Linked DNA regions of Homo sapiens: region 2 is linked to region 1. Evidence: fine-mapped expression QTL. Tissue or cell type: cerebellum. Region 1 holds a variant in brackets; the other region holds the start of a gene. All regions are shown on one strand. Distances are from middle to middle.

The links. PIP is the estimated chance that this variant, and not a neighbour inherited with it, causes the effect.
Region 2: it holds the start of TRNT1, and the variant in region 1 is fine-mapped to the expression of TRNT1 in cerebellum (GTEx, PIP 0.98).

The regions. Positions count from the first base shown.
Region 1 is chr3:3,174,405-3,184,428 of GRCh38, reverse strand. It overlaps CRBN (cereblon), which reads left to right and starts at 4,738. Exons shown (of 11, transcript NM_016302.4): 1 at 4,738-4,808; 2 at 9,160-9,266. The coding sequence starts at 4,742. RefSeq lists a silencer at 4,505-4,674. The variant A/C (reference allele first, on the strand shown) is at 5,695.
Region 2 is chr3:3,120,597-3,130,677 of GRCh38, reverse strand. It overlaps TRNT1 (tRNA nucleotidyl transferase 1), which reads right to left and starts at 3,738. Exons shown (of 8, transcript NM_182916.3): 1 at 3,688-3,738; 2 at 1,490-1,664. The coding sequence starts at 1,637. LOC124909339 (a long non-coding RNA gene) reads left to right here and starts at 3,847. Exons shown (of 2, transcript XR_007095786.1): 1 at 3,847-4,118; 2 at 8,040-8,681. RefSeq lists enhancers at 3,175-3,254, 2,677-3,407 and a silencer at 3,615-4,034.

The sequences.
Region 1 (10,024 bases):
AAAGACTTTTTAAGTTAGTGACAGCACGACTAACATAGTTCAAAGAAAGTTGATGAACATGATTCTCTGTGACTGAATCAGAGAGAGCTACAAAGGAGTTAAAGAGCCATAGTTATGATCCTTCATTGTCAAGGGAGGCTGAATATGACTGGGATTCCCCAGGCAGATAACGATGTCCACATAGCCCCATCACAGTGCTGCAAGCACCTCTGCCACTCTATATGTAGGACAATTTATTGTACAAACTGGCACACTTTGAAGAGTGGAATGGGGCAAGGGGTGGGGCTGGTCTGGTAGTTATGCTGATACACCAAACACATACCAGGGTTGTCCTGGGCAAATCCCAATGTGGGGTTGCTCTATCACTTGCTACACACTCATACATGTGGTTGCACACACAAATGCAGGCCAGATCAAGGCAGGTAACACACACACACACACACACACACACACACACACACACACACACACACACACTGGCTGGTTGGCTTCTGTGACCAACAGGGGCTGCCCCATCTAAACCAGGCATTGTTATTTAGTCGGAGATCATTGTTCCCATGCATGAATCTGACTCATGGTTGCCAAATCTTCCCAGTTTTAAAGAGAAGCAGGAAATCAATATTGGTATATGTATTCTTCAATTGCCAAATGCTGGCTGGCAATCGTATAATTCAAATACTCAAATTACCACACAGGGCAAGAAAGTCTCTAGCTTGGGAGGTCACCTGTTTGGGACCCGTGTCTCACAGAGTGGCAGAGGGAACTGTGGCACTGTGAGAGGAACATGCCCGTGGAGCTGCTTACATCTCACCTGTGCTTTTGCCTCAAGGGAGAAAGCATTGGAAGATTTATGCACTTCCAAAATTAATGAATTCATCTATTGAAAAAATGATAACCAAATATGCCTACAAGTTAATCTAGCTTTGCTTTTTCTAAAATCCACAATTTCCTTTAAAAACAATTTTGGATCTTTGGACTAGGTTGGCTGGTTTTATCCATCAAACCAATATGGGTCTTAATCTTCATCCCAGATGGAAGTGGGGAGGAATGATATCTTTGCCTTTCATCATGGAGGAAAATCTCTTCTAAAAGTTATCTTCCCTCTTCATTCTCAGAGGCTACCAAGCTGACTTTCTCTAGGTGTCATTAGCCAGGACCAGATCAGGTGATACCATCAGCCATAGAGGAGCTTGGAGGAATAGAGTGGGCTCGTTATTACAGGCTTACAGCAAACACGACCCCATAGCAGAGTACACTATTGCCCCAAACAAAATCAGAGTTCTTGGCAAGGAAGGAAAGAGGAATTGCTGTTGAGTAGGTAGGAAATCGGTGTCTGCCAGAACTGTGCAATTCATCTTTCATTTAATGAACATTTTTTGAGCAGCTTTTAAATGCCAGAACCTGTTCTTGGGAGCAGAAATTCCCCATTCAGACCTTATACCTTTGAGGGGGGAGAAATGAGACTGTTTTTAAAAGTAAGCCTCACAGTATTTTATTATTCTATTATTATTATTTTGGAGACAGGGTCTCATTACGTTATCCAGGCCTCATAGTATTTTAAAAGTTGAGAAATGCTTTGATGAAGGCAAATGAAGCAGAGAAGGGTAGAAAATGGTGGGAAGTGTGGGAAGAGGGTCACAATCTGACACTGGGTAGTGTGGGAAGGACTCCCCAAGGAAGGGGTATTTGACCCAAGACCTGGAAGGTACAAGGGGAAAAGTCACGCATCTATGCAGGAGGAGAGCACTCCAGCCAAAGGAAAAGGCAATTGCAAAGGCCCTGAGGTGGCCATGGGTCCATGTGGTTGTGGAAGAAGAAGATCAGTGTTGATGGAGGGGAGGGAGAGCCCACAGAGCAGCAGTGAAGTGACATCAGGGCAGGATATTGGGGGCCCACTGTGCATTATAAGGGCCACTGCAAGGGAGATGGGGAGCCAAGGAAGGGTACTGAGCAGGGGAGTCACATAATCTGACTTGTGTTTTAACAGGATCGCTCAGACTGCTTTGTTGAGAAAGCACTGTGAGAGCTAAGGGTAGAAGCCGAGAAACCAGTGTTGGTGCTATTGCCATACTCCAGGCAAGAGATAATCAACCGCTTAGACCAGAGTAGTAGCATTCTTTAACACATTAAAAAAATATGTAGAGGCTGGGCATGGTGGCTCATCCTTAATCCCTTAACCCCAGCACTTTGGGAGGTGGAGGTGGGCAGATTATTTAAGCTCAGGAGTTCAAGATCAGCCTGGGAAACATGACAAAACCCCATCTCTATAAAAAATACAAAAATTAGCTGGCCGTGGTGGCTGGTGCCTATGGTCCCAGCTCCTCTGGAGGCTGAGGTAGGAAGATCACTTGAGCCCAGGAGGTGGAAGTTGCAGTGAGCCAAGATTGCACCACTGCACTGCAGCCTGGGACAGAGCAAGACCCTGTCTCGAGAAAAAAAAATTTTATATATATATATATATATGAAGAGAGACAGAGAGAGAGAAAATACAATATAAAGGGAGACAGAAATGTCCTCTCCCAGTCTATGTGCTCCTTGCTGCTAATATTGTGTAGAAGCCAGAAATGGAAAGAGCGATGGTCCTTTTCATTTACATTTTCTCCCGTCTTCTACCACCCTTAATTCTGTACTATTAAAGTTAATTCTTGAGCTGTAAGACAGTGATCTATGAACATATATATTTCTTTTCCCTCTGGCTTGCAGAGCTCCTTATCCATTGATACTGCACGCAAGCAAGAGGAAATGTTAGGAACAACTCAGTATGATATCTTCTTTCAGGATAAAGTTACCAAATTAAACAAATGGTAAATGACCATGTTTTCCTTTTGGTTTTAATAACCAGTGCTTAATCCAAGAAACCTGCTTGCTTAGATATTTTTGTTCAATGATCATCTGTTATCCCTACTGAAAGGTGTAGCTGTGGATGACTAGGTAGACTCCGGAGGGATAAAATGAAGGAGGGAGCAGGTGGTGAATGTGAAGAGTGGAGAGGAGAGGAGGAGAATTGGGGAGTAAAAGATACACAGATGTGAGCTCCGGTGATCTGTAGCAATGCACAAAAGAACAGAGAAAGAGCCAGTGCTTCTCCAGCCACATTTGTAGACTCCACCAGCCTTGCAGCTGTGCTTTCTCGTCCGGAGAAGTCTTGATTGACCCAGGGTTCAGACAATTCTGGTATCACCTCTGGGGAGAAAGACTGGAAAGTCAGAGCTTACTTATTCAGAAGCTAGATGCTTGTGTAAAGAAAATTCTACTGCACGTAAGCACAGGTTATTGAAATTCTACAAACTGTAGTGAGACATAATGTTACAGCATCAAACACACACACATATTACTTAGTGCATGCTCCCTGCTTGCTTGCGTTCTCTCTCTCTTTCACGTGGGCACACACACACGCACACCAATACACCGGCCATTCCCTCATCGTTCTGTGCTGGCATTCTGGCATAGAATCATCCTTCAATTGACTGGAGTGATCACCTTAACTCCGTTAAATCATTACGTAGTATATGTAATTGTTATTAACCTCATCGTAAAAGGTGATGCTATGATTCATGTTGCAGACATTATTAACTGGAACAAATAGGCGACACTATTTGGTTCGTTCTTATTTTGCAAATGGGCGAATTGAGGCCCGCAGCCATAAGTGATTTGACGAAGACCACAGACTGATTCGGAGACAGGAGGCAAAATGACACAGGAATGATTCACAAGCCTCTGTCACAAGGGAGTTTTCTGCTTGTAACTTATCAGGGAGGCAAATTTTCTGAAATCATTTTTTCAAATCTCAGATCCATGACTTTTCTGTTGAGCAATGCTGCTGCTTCCTCTCAGCCTCCGCCCACCACCACCACTACCATGTTTAGATGTTGTATTTCATTTAAGGATTTTTCAGTTTTCCTTCCTCGCTGAAAAAGTGATACTGAAATACACTACGAAAACTTTTGTCCTCCCTCCAAAACAAATATCTTACCAGTCACAACTCCACCATTATAACAGAATTATCTTCATTTTTTACATAGTCTTTCTTTTTTGCCACAGTGACTTGTTTTTACATAGCTGAAGTCATAATGAGTAGGCTAGTTTATATTCAGACAATTTTATTTACCAATTATAAGGCGTTTTCCATTCTGTGCAATCATCATTTCAAGTATGTTTCTGATTAATACTTGTTAATTTTGGAATGTAATGTACATATATGGAAACTACTGAAGTTATTGAAGTTGTATGTACATACATTGAAACTACTGAAGAAAATCAGCAATAATTCAACCACCCTCGGAATAACTGATGGATTTCCCCAGCCTTCACATATATGCTTCTTATTTTAAGAATTGAAACTAATGCTGCATGAACAGGTTTCTATTTGCTCCCTGCCCCCTTCGTTTAAAAACAAGGTGGAGACTAAAGGCTCTCAGCCTCAGTTTCTCCATATGCAAAATATCAGGATTAAATAAGTCATGCTAAGGGCTGGAACAAAGTGAGGGCTCTGCAGCGTGTACGCCGGGCACTCAGCCGTGGATGGCAGGGGACGGCGTTCTGTCCCCGGGACGGAGCGCAGGCCTGTAATTGTCCCTCCCGCCTAGGCCATCACTTTCAGGCTTGGGTACGCGCCGCCGTCTGCTCCCCTGGGGCCGCCAGGGGGCGCTGTGGCCCCGGTGCGCGGCAGCCGCGCGACACGGGCCCTCCCTCGGAGTCTTCGGCACCGCCCTGTCCCAGCCTCCTTTGCGGGTAAACAGACATGGCCGGCGAAGGAGATCAGCAGGACGCTGCGCACAACATGGGCAACCACCTGCCGCTCCTGCCTGGTAACCGCCCGGAGTAGTTCCCTGTAGTCGGGAGTGGGGCGAGGCTCGGAGCCGCTAGCGGTGCAGCTGGGCCTGGGAGGCGGGCGTGGGGGCGCCAAGCCTGGCGAGCCAGCCCAGCAGGGCCGCACCGGAAAGCTGCTTCACGTCGGCCCTCGGCCAGCGATGGAGTCGCGGCGCTTTCTTCGCTGCTCTGTTGCCCCGAGCCGTGAGCCAGGGTGTCGGGGGGAGCATTTGCTATTAAGAACAGGAAACCCATCCTCTCCATCCTCCTTGTGTTCTGAGTTTAGCTCCTAGGAAATGCTCTGAAACTAGAGGACCGGGTCAGATTCACAGCGGTTACTTTTGCTGGTCTCCTTCCTTTTAATAAGAGTGACAGCTAACATGTACTAAGCACTTACCATGTTACGAGCCGTGCAGTTAACGCTTTGCATGCATGTCGCCTTTTAATCCTTCCCACATCAGTTTTCAGTTTCCGATTTGATAAGCGAGTATTGGATTTGCAGATTAGTTCAATGACTTGCCCAAGGTCACACAGCAGAGTCAGGATTCCAACCCGGGTGTGTCTGTCATTATATCTCTAAACCACTTCTCTGTTTTGTTTTTCTTACTATCGGTCTTTCTCAGGCATGTACGATTATGCTTAATCAGAGATACTTAGTTTTTCTTTTTCCTGTATGTTGTGTGAAATGTTTAGACTTTGGCCTTGTGTTGAAATACTGAACAAAAAAAAAAATGCATGGAATATTGCATAAACTTTTCATGGAATGCCTTTCAAGAGATGCTTTCCAAAAGGTGTATCATCCAAACTTGAAAGTATTACTTGAGTCCCTTCGTTATATGACAAGTATGTTAGGTGTTGTGGAGATGAAACGAGAGGTAATACACA[A/C]TCTGATAATTGAGGTTTACTGTCTAGGCGGGGCTGCTGAGAATATAACTAAACGTAAATCAACTGCAGAGGCGGTTGATTTAGGGCCAGATAAATGAATGCTGTTGTGGCTCTTCAGAGGCAGAGGTTGTTTAAGGGTCAGAGGATTTGGGAAAAAGCCTTTCAGGTAGATCAGGAGACATCTAAAAGCACATATTTAGGATATGGTTGTGGGACATAAGGCCTAGGAGGTATATTGGGTCTAAGTTGCTGGGAAACTGGCATCTCTTGCCAGTGGGTTTGGGTTTTTCCTGTGGATTGCCAAGAAACAGTTTTAGGTTTCAGGTAATTGCCTAAAGAAATCTATGCTTGGAAGATTAATTTGTCCACTGGTAGCAGCATGGATTAAAAGAGGAAGAGACTGAGTGCGTGCCCACCATATAGGAGAGAACTTTTCTGTAAAAATAAACCATAGTCACTGGTTGTTCTCGAAGCCATTCTAGCTGAGTTGACACAAGGGTAAGTGTGCCAGCCTTTGATGGAAAGCTGAGCTATTTTTTCAGAGACATTAGCCCTACTCTCTGTGCCAAATCCGGTGTTTCAGGGAGAATGGTGAATAGAAGAGGGAGGATACTGATCTTCTGTCGACATTCACATCGTGCCTCTGCATGAGATGAGTCATCAGACTTCACTGATAGCTCTGAACAGTCAGCGTGGTTTTTTGTTTGTTTTTTTTTTGTTTGTTTTGTTTTGTTTTTTGTTTTTCAGAAAAGCGTCGGGAGAGGGCCCAGAGATGGTGTAGATATAGCAATAATGCCTCTCCAAATTACGTAAATTTTATTTGTAGGGAAACACTGGGCTTTCCATAATTCCATGTAGTACGAGTTGTTCTGAAGAGTAAATCCTCTAAGTTCCAACAAAAAGCTTTATATTTGAGATGTGAAGAGTTTATCCTAGGCAAATGAAACATTAATAAACATAACTGAGTAGGGGAAAGTGGTTTTTAGCCATATTTATGAAAAAAAGGTTACTAAAGAAATTATTTAGAGACTAGGAGTCAGAACAGTTAAAATGTAAATTTTTAACAATATTAATTCCAGCCTTTGAGCTAATAGTTTATCTTTTAAACTTTCTGTAGTAGAGCAATAAAGTGGGTTGTGCTGCATGCCAAGTGATAGCCATACTGTCAGAGTTGGAAATACAAACAATTTGATGCAGAATATTTTTGTCATCCATTTAGATAGCTCTTTTTTTATCTCAGTGAAACTTACATGTTCCAAGGAAAATTTGTATGAAGTGTTAGACCATTGGCTATTTACATATAAGTTGAAGTAATTCTGTTTTTGACAAAGTTTTATATCTAGGAAGTTGTAATAATAAATAGAAAGTCCAAGGCAGTTACCATATTGAAAATCATTTTTATTTTCTGTCAGGGGCCTGGCTAGAGGTGGTTTGACTTAAATAATGATATGCAAAGGAAAACAAATGATTATTTCGTAATGACATTTTATCGATTTAGAAGTTTATTTGGGGCATTTAAAAATACATGAACTGGGAGGTGAGAAATGAGATTCAGTAATTCTTTATTGTTAGTCTAGGCCAGGGTCTCCCAACCTCAGCACTGGACTTTTGGGCTGGAGAATTCTTTGGGTGGGATTGTCTCGTGCATTGTAGGATATTTAGCTGCATCCCTGGCCTCTACCCACTAGATGCCAGTAGGACTCCCTTAGTTATTGCAACCAATATCCCCTGAGGGGCAAAATCACCTGTGGTTGAGAGTCACTGGTCTAGGATAGGAAATTTACTCATAGTTTGTATGAAAAGGACAGACTCACAGTTAGTACAATAGCATATGTATTGTGTAGCGTTTTCTAATTTTCTTTGCTGTCATTGGTAACATCTGGTTTTCTAAGACATTCTTTTAAAATGTTTTATGCTTCATGCAAACTTTATTTTTAAATTTAAAATTAAGCAAAATAGTATGCAAATGATTGCAAAATTTTCTTTGTTTCTTTCTTTTGAGATGGAGTCTTGCTCTGTCGCCCAGGCTGGAGTGCAATAGCACAATCTCAGCTCACTGCAACCTCCACCTCCTGGGTTCAAGCGATTCTCCTGCCTCAGCCTCCCCAGTAGCTGGGATTACAGGCACCTACAACCACACCCGGCTAACTTTTGTGTTTTTAGTAGAGATGGGGTTGCAACATGTTGGCCAGGCTGGTCTTGAACTCCTGACCTCAAGTGATCTGCCTGCCTCGTCCTCCCAAAGTGCTGGGATTACAGGTGTGAGCCACCACACCTGGCCTTCATTTTAAGATAATGTAGCGACTGCCAGGGAAATGTTGTCACTAGAAAAATGCTGTGAAATTCTTCCTGCTAGGTTATCTTTCTCTCAGTTTTAATTAACAGATCTTGCCTGCTTTGTTTCTTTTCTTACTTATGTAGGAACTGATTGAAGTTGAGAGTTTGAGAGAACGTTAGAGGTTGACTTGTTGAAGCCTATCATTTTGCAGATGAGGAAACTAAAATTTAATTGGGCAGAATGAGTTGTCTAAGGTGTTAAAATTAGTTACTGGTGAGGGAGAAGAGAAAAATCTCCCATATAGAAGAATTTTAAATAACTTACATTTCCTCTTCAAGGGAGTGGAGCATAACTCATCACCCCTGAAGTGGAGGCTACACCTAGTGATTTGCTTCCGAAGGGTACAATGTGAAAAGGAGGGGGGAAAGGAACTTTACAGCGGAAAAACCTGACACACACTGCTGTAGCCAGGTGATCAAGGTTAACAGCAGGAATAGTTCATAATATATAGGCTGGATATGTAATAAAAACAGCACATTGGCAACAGACCCCATTTCTAAAAAGGAAAAGAATAACAACACTTCACTTCTGTGGTCTTCCTCCCTAAAACACGTATCCTCAGTCTAATCATGGGAATTACATCAAACAAAACCCAGTTGAGGGATACTCTACAAAAGGCCTGACCAGTACTCCTCAAAACTCAGAAACAAGCAAAGTCTGAAAACCCCCCTAGCCCAGAGGAGGGTAGGGGGACCTGATAACTAAATGTAAAGTGGGATCCTGGAACGCAAAAAGACTAGATAAAAACTAAGGGAATCCATTTAAAATATGAAGCTTAGTTAGAGTAATGTACCAAGACTGATTCCTTCGTTGTGGCAAATGTACCATACTAATATAAATTAACTATAGGGGAAAAGGATGTGTGACACACGGGAGCATTCTGTACTATCTTTACACTTCTCTGTAAATGTTAAACTATTCTAAAATTCACAGTTGACTTAAAAAAAAAAAATAGCTACTGACAGAGCCCAGCACGGACCCCAGTCCTCTGGCTCCCTCTTCACGGTGCTGTAGAGTTTACCAAATGCATGTGGTTTTAGAAGTACCCCTCTTTTGAAGAAGGAATTACATGTTTGAAAGGTTTTCATTCATCTTTTTTTTTTTCTTACAATATTCTACTTTTATAGCAGAGAGTGAGGAAGAAGATGAAATGGAAGTTGAAGACCAGGATAGTAAAGAAGCCAAAAAACCAAACATCATAAATTTTGACACCAGTCTGCCGACATCACATACAGTATGTAATTTAGTGACAGATCTAATATAATAGATATACATTTAAATGTAGATAAAAGTTCATAAAAACAAGTGACTGATATTTGTATTACTAGATATCAGAAATTGTGGATGAGGACATGGGCTATTTGCCAGTAGATAAACATTTAACTGTAATTTTTAAGAAGCTTAATACTATGTTGTGGTAGAATTGTTTGAGGAATTGTTGCTCTTTATACTCTTTCTGGTAATTGAGCTATTAAATACTTCTCTGTACTTCTAGGTACTAGAGTGTTATTGAACATACTAACATTTTATACTTACTGTTTGTGATATGTGGGCATAGAGATATTTCTTGGTAAAAATAATACTTTGTACTAAAAAAATTCTTGAATTTCTGTGTTTGTGATATATTCATAAAAGATTAGAAATTCTTCTAAGAGTTAAAGTTAGATTAAAAATTATATTTTAACATGGGATGCTTATATACCACGTTTATTAAGTGTTTGTAACCCCATTTGTATTTTTTTCTTTTTTTTTGAGACAGAGTGTTGCTCTGTCGCCCAAGCTCGAGTGAGTGCAGTGGCACAATCTCAGCTCACTGCAGCCTCCACCTTCCAGGTTCAAGTGATTCCCCTGCCTCAGCCTCCCGATTAGCTGGGATTACAGGTGTCCACCACCACACCTGGCTAATTTTTGTATTTTTAGTAGCAACAGGGTTCCACCATGTTGGCCAGGTTGGTCTTGAACTCCTGACCTCAGGTGATCCGCCTACCTCGG
Region 2 (10,081 bases), 54 kb after region 1:
ATTATTAAAATTTATTTCACCATTTCTATCTTTTTAATGTGGTTAGTAAAAAAGTTTATATTACATATGGGCTCATAAATTTCTATTGGACAGCAATTTTTAGCAATTTTCACTCTCTCCAATTAAAAAAGATAGTGAAGCATCGGCAAAACCAAACATGCATTTAAGCCCTCTACTTAAAGTCTGCCTAAAACAATCTAAAAGAATCAACATATTCTGGGCCATTTATCTCTGGCACGTACCTAAAAAGCCATCATCCAATTTCAAGAATGGGAAAGTAGCTTTGAGAATAAGCTAATACAAGGTGAGTCATGTTAAAGTAATGGTTCGTCTATCTTCTGTGCATCAGAATTAACTTGTGGAGCTTTTATTAAAAATATAGATGGTCATCCCACCCAGAGATTCTAATTCAGTAGGCTGCAGGTAGAACCCGAGCATGTGTGCTTTAAAAGCTCCCCAGGTGAATCTAATAGATAGCCAGTGCTGTATAGGTCATATTTCTACATATACTACTAAATATATTTATGAAGGTGCTATTAAAATTCCCACAGGCTTTGTAATGCTACTGTGTGGCTGCTTTAGCAACATCAGCAGACAACATTGAGAATCAACACTAATGAAACTGTGGCAACAGCAAGAAGCTACTGGCACTTAGCTAAAGCCATTTCCTATGCTCCTTCCAGACAGGTTTTGCAACGTGCACAATGGAGGCAACTCCTATTTCCTTCTTCCTTCAGTTCTCATGGAAAGCATTTATACCTAGGAAGGAAACAGAGCTTAGCGGTTGCAAGCTGGGCTCTGAAATCAATCTGCGTAAGTTCGAAACCTAGCTCTCTAGTTAGTAGTTACAGAAACACAGGCAAAGCACTTCACATGCCTAACAATCTGTTTCCTTTTTCACGTAACAGGTCAAAATGTGCGTACTCATTAAGTTAGTAGCACCAGTCCTGTAATGAATGGCAAGTACTTAGCACAGCATACAGAAAAGCCATGCTTTTTACTGCAGTCAACTTCTTGCCTTTTCCAGTGATTTAGCTATATTTTTGGATCAGCCATATGTAAGCCTTTCTCTTTTAATATTCCTTTCTCTTTTTTTGAGACAGGGTCTCACTCTGTTGCCCAGGCTAGAGTGGCATGATCATAGCTCACTGCAGCCTCAAACTCCTGGGCTCAAACAATCCTCCTACCTTGGCCTCCCCAAGAGATTACAGGCTGGGTACACCCAGCCAAGCCTTTCTTCCAACAATGAAAACGTGCACATTGGGCACCGTGGCTCACACCTGTAATCCCAGCATTTTGGGAGGCCAAGGAGTGAGCCCAGGAGTTTTGAGACCAGCCTGGGCAACACAAAGAGACCCTCTACTTACGTTTTTTAATAAAAATAATTAAAACAACAATGAAAATATCCGAATGCTGGCTTAAAAAGTTAACCCTCTACTTCTCCATTTATATAGGTTTCCAATCAAGAAAAGGTATCCTAATCTCTCACCTGTCAGACTCTTCAGTCCTTCTGTGAAAAGTGACTGGAATTCGGGAGACTGCAACTTCATTGTGAATAGATACTGCTTCGGAAGGCACAGCCTACTCCACCTACGGTTCAGCACTGGCCTGTGCCAATGATACAGGCACCTCAGCATCTGGAGAGGCAGTCACCAACTACACATCTACAAGGCAAATACACAGGCATACCAATGAAATTAAAAGTGAAGGTAAGTGAAGGAAAACAAAGGGGGACACATTTCAAGTTTATCAACTCAGAAATTCATCTCTTGTTCAGATGAAAAAACTGAAAACGGTGTCAGTTTGAGGGATTACGACTAGGTCTATGTATCTACCTGGTTTTGTTCTCCAGAAGCACTTACTGTGGCAGGCGGGGTCTCACTAGCGCAGGCCTCCATAACTGTTTCAGTACTGACTGACTGGTTGAGTTACATATTAAAAGCTGAAAGAGCCAGCCAGTGCCCTTAAACAAGGCTAGAATGTAACAAAAGCCCCCCAAGAGTTTTGCCTAGGCCTTTCCTGGACCTTGAAGCATGATAAAATAACAAAGGAATTCTTTTTTTTTTTTTTTTTTTTTTTGAGATGGAGTCTCGCTCTGTCGCTCAGGCGGGAGTGCAGTGGCGCGATCTCAGCTCACTGCAACCCCTGCCTCCTGGGTTCAAGAGATTCTCCTGCCTCAGCATCCCAAGTAGCAGGGATTACAGGCGCACACCACCACATCCGGCTAATTTTTTATACTTCTGGGTAGAGACGGGGTTTTACCACGTTGGCCAGACTGCTCTCGAACTCCTGACCTCAAGTGATCTGCCCGCCTCAGCCTCCCAAAGTGCTGGGATTACAGGCGTGAGCCACTGAGCCCGGCCACAAAGGAATTCTTAACAGGACCCGTTTAGAATTAAACAAGTTTTACTGGGGATCTGAGGAAACTCCCCAGGCCTCCACGAACAAGTTTATTAGGGGTCTGAGGGAACTCCCCAAACCTCCATGATTTAGCAGGAGAGAATATAAGGGTAATCACCCCAGCACCTGGACCCATTTAGATTAAGTAAATTTACTCAGGCTCCAGAGGAAGGTCTTCAGGACTCAGATCTTATGGGTAAGAAGTTAATCACTTGTATCTTTAGATCAATGCACACTTACACATAAACATACAACTTACAAGGTATATAAGCTCTGGAAAGCTCTGTAATTCTGAGTCGGTCTGGGATATTTTCCACGCCTTCGCCCCGTACCTGGTTACAGAAATAAACTCCTTTCTTTCCTAGTTTATCTGCATCTCATTATTGGGCAGCGAGAATAAGCAGCCCAACCCTCGGTTTGGTGGTTTGGTCGGGGAGCATTACCACGACACTCGCATGCCACATGGTACTGTGATGACACTCTCCCCAGAGCAGGGCTTCAGGCAGTATGAGAGGGATGCGGGGTTCTAGAAACTCTAACCGAGTTTCTGGTCTCCAAAACTTGTCATGGTCACAGGTGGGTATCACCCTACTTCCCCACCTGCACTCGAGGATTCACGACCCTGGGATAGCTCCTAGACATTGTATTTTCCCATGAATTTAGTTTTGCTGCCCCCATTTTCCTGATTCTTTTCCTGCCATCTTGCAATCTCCTCTGATTTCTGGCACACCGCGGCCTTCCCTTCTACATATCACATCCTCGTTCTCCCCATACGGGGGTCCTGCCCATAAGGAGGCCGCAGCAGCTCTCGAGTGACCCCGGTGTAAACCTGCAGAGAAAAACCATTCCATTCCACGGAAGCGGGTGGAGGAGCCGCGCTTCCCGGCAGGCCACGTGGGGCGGAAAGACCCACTCAGTTTCCTCGCACCTCCGCCTCGACTTAGGAAAACGCTCTGGGGAACCCCAGCCCTGAAAAGGCGCGTCTCACCCCCCACGCCGGGTGCTGGCGACAAGGCCCAGTGAAAAAGCGTCTCGGGGCCGTCCGCGCGGAGGGGAAAGTGCTGAGGGAAGCCAAGGAATCCGCGCCTGCGGTCGCCGGAAACGTGGCGGGGACACGACCTCCGCGTCGGGGCTATTTTGCCCACTGCTGAGGAGGCCTCTCGCCACGTCCCGCTCCCGTCTTCCTCGAGGACCGGGCGCGGTGGCGCCTCTGGCCCACAGCAGGAAGGAAGGGGCAGCAACTCACGCCACCAACTCTGCCCCTCTGAGCGGCGCGCGCCCGCTTACCGGCCCCGCTGTTGCCGCAGCCGCCACCGCCGCCACGCGCACTTCCGGGCTGGTGAACGCGGTGACGTCACCAACGCACATGGGTTGGCGGCGAATGGGAAGTCGCGGCGGGGCGAGGGCGAGTGCGGGGGCGGGGCCCGGACCGAAGGGCTTCCGCCTCCCGTCGCTCCTCCCCACCGTGAGGCGAACCTCAGCCGGTTTCCCAGCCCCGCCGAGGCCCGCTGGGGCGAAGCGGAGCCCCGGGGGGCCCTGAGGAAACCGGCGCGGGTTCGTTTAATTACGCCCTTCTCGCCAGACCTCTGGCTGGCCCTGAGCTGCTCAGAAGCCCATCTGCGCGGCATGCCCGTGCGATCTGAGACAACTGGCAGCTGTCTTCCTTTGCAAAACGAGACTGTTAATAAAACCTACCCCAGGGTAGGACGGACTGTTCGGTAAATGTTAACTTATCCGTGTTTGACTATTCTCTCCTCTAATCTCTGCATAGGGTTAAGTCCACAGTTGACAGAGTCACGCGCATTCGAAATCTAAGCCCGCCGGTCCTATGAACTTACTGGGCATATTTTATTTTCTTACCTGGTTTGTGTAACCATTGGCCTCCTTGGCCCGGAGGCTTCCCATCTGTAACGTGGAGAACTTAGATTTGATCCAGTTCATTAATTCTTTCTAGAGCGGAAAAGAGCAAAGAGAGTGGCAAAGGAGTGGGAATACAGCCGTTGAGCCCTTAAAGTGCGAAAATGTGTAGTTTTTGTTTTGTTTTGTTTTTGAGACGGAGTTTCGCTCTTGTCGCCCAGGCTGGAGTGCGGTGGCGCGATCTGGGCTCGCTGCAACCTCCGCCTTCCGGTTTCAAGCGATGCTCCTGCCTCGGCCTCCCGAGTAGCTGGGATTACAGGTGTCTGCCACCACGCCCGGCTAATTTTTAGTAGAGACGGGGTTTTGCCGTGTTGGCCAACTGGTCTCGAACTCCTGACCTCGTGTTCCCCAGGCCTCGGCCCCCAAAAGTGCCGGGATTACTTTTGCCGGGATTCGGCCACTGCGCCCGGCCGAAAATGTGTAGTCTTTTAAGTGTAACTTTACATCACTTAGCTTTCCCTAAAATTTTCCTAGAAAAATGCTTGTGCATGTTATTTCTGTTCTTTTGCCCTCCCCACATGCCTACCTGTTCTTCCCAAACTTTTCAGCCCCACTCTCTGTAGACTTCCTAAAACGTAAAAAGTAAGATGTGCAATTACCACACCTCTTCAAGGTGTTGAATATCCTGTTTTTGGAAGCACAGGACTGGCTTTCCAAATGGACATTCAGAGGCACAGCATTGATATCATCCGGTGCAAGGATTTTCTGTCTCTCTCTCTCTTTGGGGCAAGGAAAGCCCCAAATCATCCTTTCAGGCTTGTCTGCTATTTCTCACCACCATGACCCTAGACAAACTGGACCAAAGCCTCCATTGCTGTACCCACCTAGAATAGATTCTCCAAATCACCACCTATGAAGGCAACGCTAATACAACTATTATGATGACTTACTTCGTGCCAGTTACTGTGCTGGGCACCCTCAACAATTTCTGGCCTTGTAAATATATAGTTTATATATGCAGGTGTATATACAGTTGTCCTTCCGTATCCATGGGGTATTGGTTCCAGAACATCACCCCAGCCAGTGTTCAAGTTCTTTACATAAAATGGCATAATATTTACATATAGACTATACACATTCTGTAGTACAAATCATTTCTAGATTACTTATAATACCTGATATAAATGCTGTGTAAACAGTTGTTATGCTATATCGCTTCTTTGTGTTTTTTAATTGCTATTTAATTTTTTTTTTTTTTTTTGAGATGGAGTTTCACTCTGGCGCCCAGGCTGGAGTGCAGTGGCACGATCTCAGCTCACTGCAACCTCTGCTTTCCAGGTTCAAGCGATTCTCCTGCCTCATCCTCCCAAGTAGCTGGGATTACAGGCACCCGCCTCCACGCCCGGCTAATTTTTGTATTTTTAGTAGAGACGGGGTTTCACCATGTTGGCCAGGCTGGTCTTGAACTGCTGACCTCAGGTGACCCACCCACCTAGGCCTCCCGAAGTGCTGGGATTACAGACGTGCGCCATGGTGCCCCAGCCTTATTTAATATTTTGACCTGTGGCTGGTTGAATCCACTGATGGAGAACCCATGGCCATGGAAGGTCAACTGGAGAGAGAGAGAGAGAGAGAGAGAGGAGAAAGAGAGAGAGTAAGAGAATTCCTCCTGTACTGGCCAAGACAATAAAACAAAAATAGGGGTATTACTACAGATCATGTAGATATATATGAGGAGGTATTATAAACAATTTTATGCCAATTAATTTGACAATGTAGATGCAACGCACCAATTCTATAAAAAAGACAATTTATCAGAACTGAAATAGGGTAGAATTTAAAAATCTGAATAGCTTTTCATTTTTAAAGAAATTGAATTGTTGTTCAACAGACTTCTCACAAAGATAATTCCAGGCCCAGATGGTTTCAGTGGTCAAATTTATCAAACGCATAAGGAAGGAAGAACTCCAGTCTTGTGCAAAGTTTGTTTAGAAAATAGAGGAGGAAACAGTTTTCCTCTCATTTTGAGGCCAGCATAACCCGCATAACATAAAATCAACACTACAAAAAAATTAATATACAGCTTAATATACCACATGACCATAGAAACAAAAACAACTTTAATAAAATGTTAGGAAATTGAATCCAACAGTATATAGAAAGATAATACATCATGATCAATTTGGGTTTGTCCCCAGTGCAAGGAATGCAAGTTGTATTTAATGATCTAAAACCAATCAACGTAATTCACCATATTAACTGAAAAAGAAAAACTGTTGTCATCACAATAGATGCAGAAAGACCACTTAAAATTCAATCCCTACTCATAAAAACTGCCAAAAAAATTAGAAGGGACTTCCTCAATATAGTAAAGGTCATTCATGAAAAATCCATAGCCAATATCAGACTTAGTGGTAATATATTGAACACTCTCCCCCTTATATCAGGAAGAAGGCAAGGATGCCTCATCTTACCACTTCTTAACATTTGTCTGTAGTTTATAACCATTAACAAAGCAAGAAAAAGATATGGAAAGTGTAACAATTCAAAAGGAAGTAAAATTGTCCCTATTTTCAGATGACATGATGGTGGTTTATACAGAAATCATAGGAACTGACAAAACTACTACTAGAACTAACAAGTAAATTTAGGAAGGTCTCAGGATACCAGGTTAATATACATAAATCAATTCTATTTTTATATATTATCAGCAAAAATATAGTACATAAAAATATATATCACATATGAAGAAATAAGCGTAATAAGAGAAGCTATATGGTTAGCAACCAAACATATATAAAGATACTCATCAATCGCTAAGAGGCCAGATATGGTGGCCCTTGCCTGTAATCCCAGCACTTTGGGAGGTTAAGGTGGGAGGATCATTTGAGCCCAGGAGTTTGAGCCCAGCCTGGGCAATATAATGAGACCCTTTCTCTATAATTTATTTTTTAATAGCCGGGGTTGCTGTTGCGTGCCTGTATTCCCAGTTACTCAGGAGGCTGAAGTGGGAGAAACACTTTGAGCCCAGGAGGTCCAGGCTGCATTGAGCTGTGATTGCACCACTGCATTCCAGCCTGGACAACAGAGTGAGACATTGTCTAAAATATTATATATATATATATATAAAATCACTAGGGAAATACAAATTATACAACAATGAGATACCTTTTTGTTTTTTTAAGACGGAGTCTCACTCTTTCCCCTAGGCTGGAGTGCAATGGCATAGTCTCGGCCTACTGCAACCTATGCCTGCCAGGTTCAAGCAGTCTGCTGCCTGAGCCTTCTGAGTAGCTGGGATTACAGGCACGTGCCACCACACCTGGCTAATTTTTGTATTTTTAGTAGAGATGGGGTTTCACTATATTGGCCAGGCTGGTCTTGAACTTCTGACCTTGTGATCTGCCGCCTCAGCCTCCCAAAGTGCTGGGATTACAGGCACGAGCCACCACGCCTGGCCAACAATGAGATACCTTTACATACCCATTAGAATGTCTAAAATTGAAACACCTGGAAATATCAAATGCTGATGAGAATGAAGAGCAACTGCAACTCTCATACACCGTGGGTGGGAATACAAACTGGCCCAGCCACTTTGGTAAACAGTTTACTGGTGTCTGATAAGACTAGCTATACATATAGCTTATGGCCCAGCAGTCCCACTCCTAGATATTTACCTGAGAGAAATAAAAACTTATGTTCACACTAAAACGTGTATGTGAGTGGTGTAGTCACTTTATTTATAATTATTCCAAACTGGAAATAACCCAGATTTCTTCCAGCAGATGAATGGATAAGCAACCTGGAGCATATCCATACAATGGAATACTACTGAGCAAGATGAAAGAACAAACTGCTGATACACACAGCAACACATCTGACTCTCAAGTGAAGAAAGCCCCTTTCAAGAGGCTGCATATAATAGACTCCATTCATATGACATCCAGAAAAGGCAAAACTATAGGTCGGGCACAGTGGCTCACGCCTGTAATCCCAGCACTTTGGGAGGCCGAGGTGGGCAGATCACGAGGCCAGGAGTTCAAGACCAGCCTGGCCAACATGGTGAAAACCCATCTCTATGAAAAATACAAAAATTAGCTGGGCGTGGTGGTGGGCACCTATAATCCCAGCTACTCGGGAGGCTGAGGCAGGAGAATCAATTGAACCAGGGAGGCAGGGGTTGCAATGAGCTGAGATGACACCATTGCACTCCAGCCTGGGCAACAGGGCAAGGATCCATCTCAAAAAAAAAAAAAGGCAAAACTGTAGAGAGAAAAAATGATCAGTTCTTGCCAGGGGGCTCAAGATGGGATGAGGTATTTACTACGAAAGCGCATGAGAGAATTTTGAGGGGAGAGAAAGGTGATAGATTTGTTCTATGTTTTGATTATAGTGGTGATTAAATAACTCTGTATTTGCCATAATGCATAGAACAGTATTGTATTAGTCCATTCTCACACTGCTATAAAGAAATACTTGCGACTGGGTAATTTATAAAGAAAAGAGGTTTAAGGCCAGGTGCGGTGGCTCAAGCCTGTAATCCCAGCACTTTGGGAGGCCGAGGCGGGTGGATCACGAGGTCAGGAGATCGAGACCATCTTGGCTAACACGGTGAAACCCCGTCTCTACTAAAAATACAAAAAAATAGTCGGGTGTGGTGGCGGGCGCCTGTAATCGCAGCTGCTCGGGAGGCTGAGGCAGGAGAATGGGGTGAACCCGGGAGGCGGAGTTTGCAGTGAGCCGAGATCGCCGAGATCGCGCCACTGCACTCCAGCCTGGGTGACAGAGCAACACTCCGTCTCAAAAAAAAAAAAAAAAGAGGTTTAATTGGCTCATGGTTCGTTCGGTCGGCTCATGGTTGGGGACGCCTCAGGAAACTTGCAGACATGGTGGAAGGTGAAGGGGAAGTAGGCTCCTCTTACATGGCCAGAGTGGGAAAAAGGAGTGGTGGGGAGGTACTGCACACTTTTAAATTGCCAGATCTCACTGCAACTCACTATGAGAAGAACAGCACTGATGGGGAAATCCACCCCCATGATCCAGTCACTTCCCACCAGGCCCCACCTCCAATATTGGAGATTACAATTTGATGAGAGATTTGAATGGGGACACACACCCAAACCATACCAAGTACATTTAAAAGGTAAACTTTCCTGCTTATAAATTATACCTCAATAAGCCTCCCCCCAAAAGTAATTACATTTTTATATATTAGCAAAAAAAATTAAGAACATGAAAATTCAATTATTGAAGTATGTACCTATGAAAGCAGGACAGAACTTTGAGGTCATTAAACTAAAGGGTGAAAGAACTCTGGACAGAATGCCCAGTTCAACCCCTTAGGACATGGTGAAGACAACCAAAGCGGTCTCAAACTCCTCTCTCCCACACAAGACGTTTTCTATTATCTCTTAATATAGACCCATCCTAAAGGAAATAAAACTTTATCTGCAAAGGAACTGACATTTACTGCACAGAAATCCTACTGGAAATATTCTCTCTCTGTAGAACATACCCAAAAGTAAATACCATAGACAGGGAGTGCTGTTAGCATCTGGCAAGTTTATACCTTTCTGTGGAAACACCACAGTCATGAATATTACTCTTCAGTTAGAAGGCTACACATTATTAAATAAATTCAGGAGGCCAGGAGTGGTGGCTCAATTTGGGAGGCTGAGACATGCAGATCACTTGAGGCCAGGAGTTTGAGACCAGCCTGGCCAACTTGGTGAAACTCTGTTTCTACTAAAAAAAAGAATAATAATACAAAAACTATCTGGGCCTGATGGCACATGACTGAAATCCCAGCTACTCGGGAGGCTGA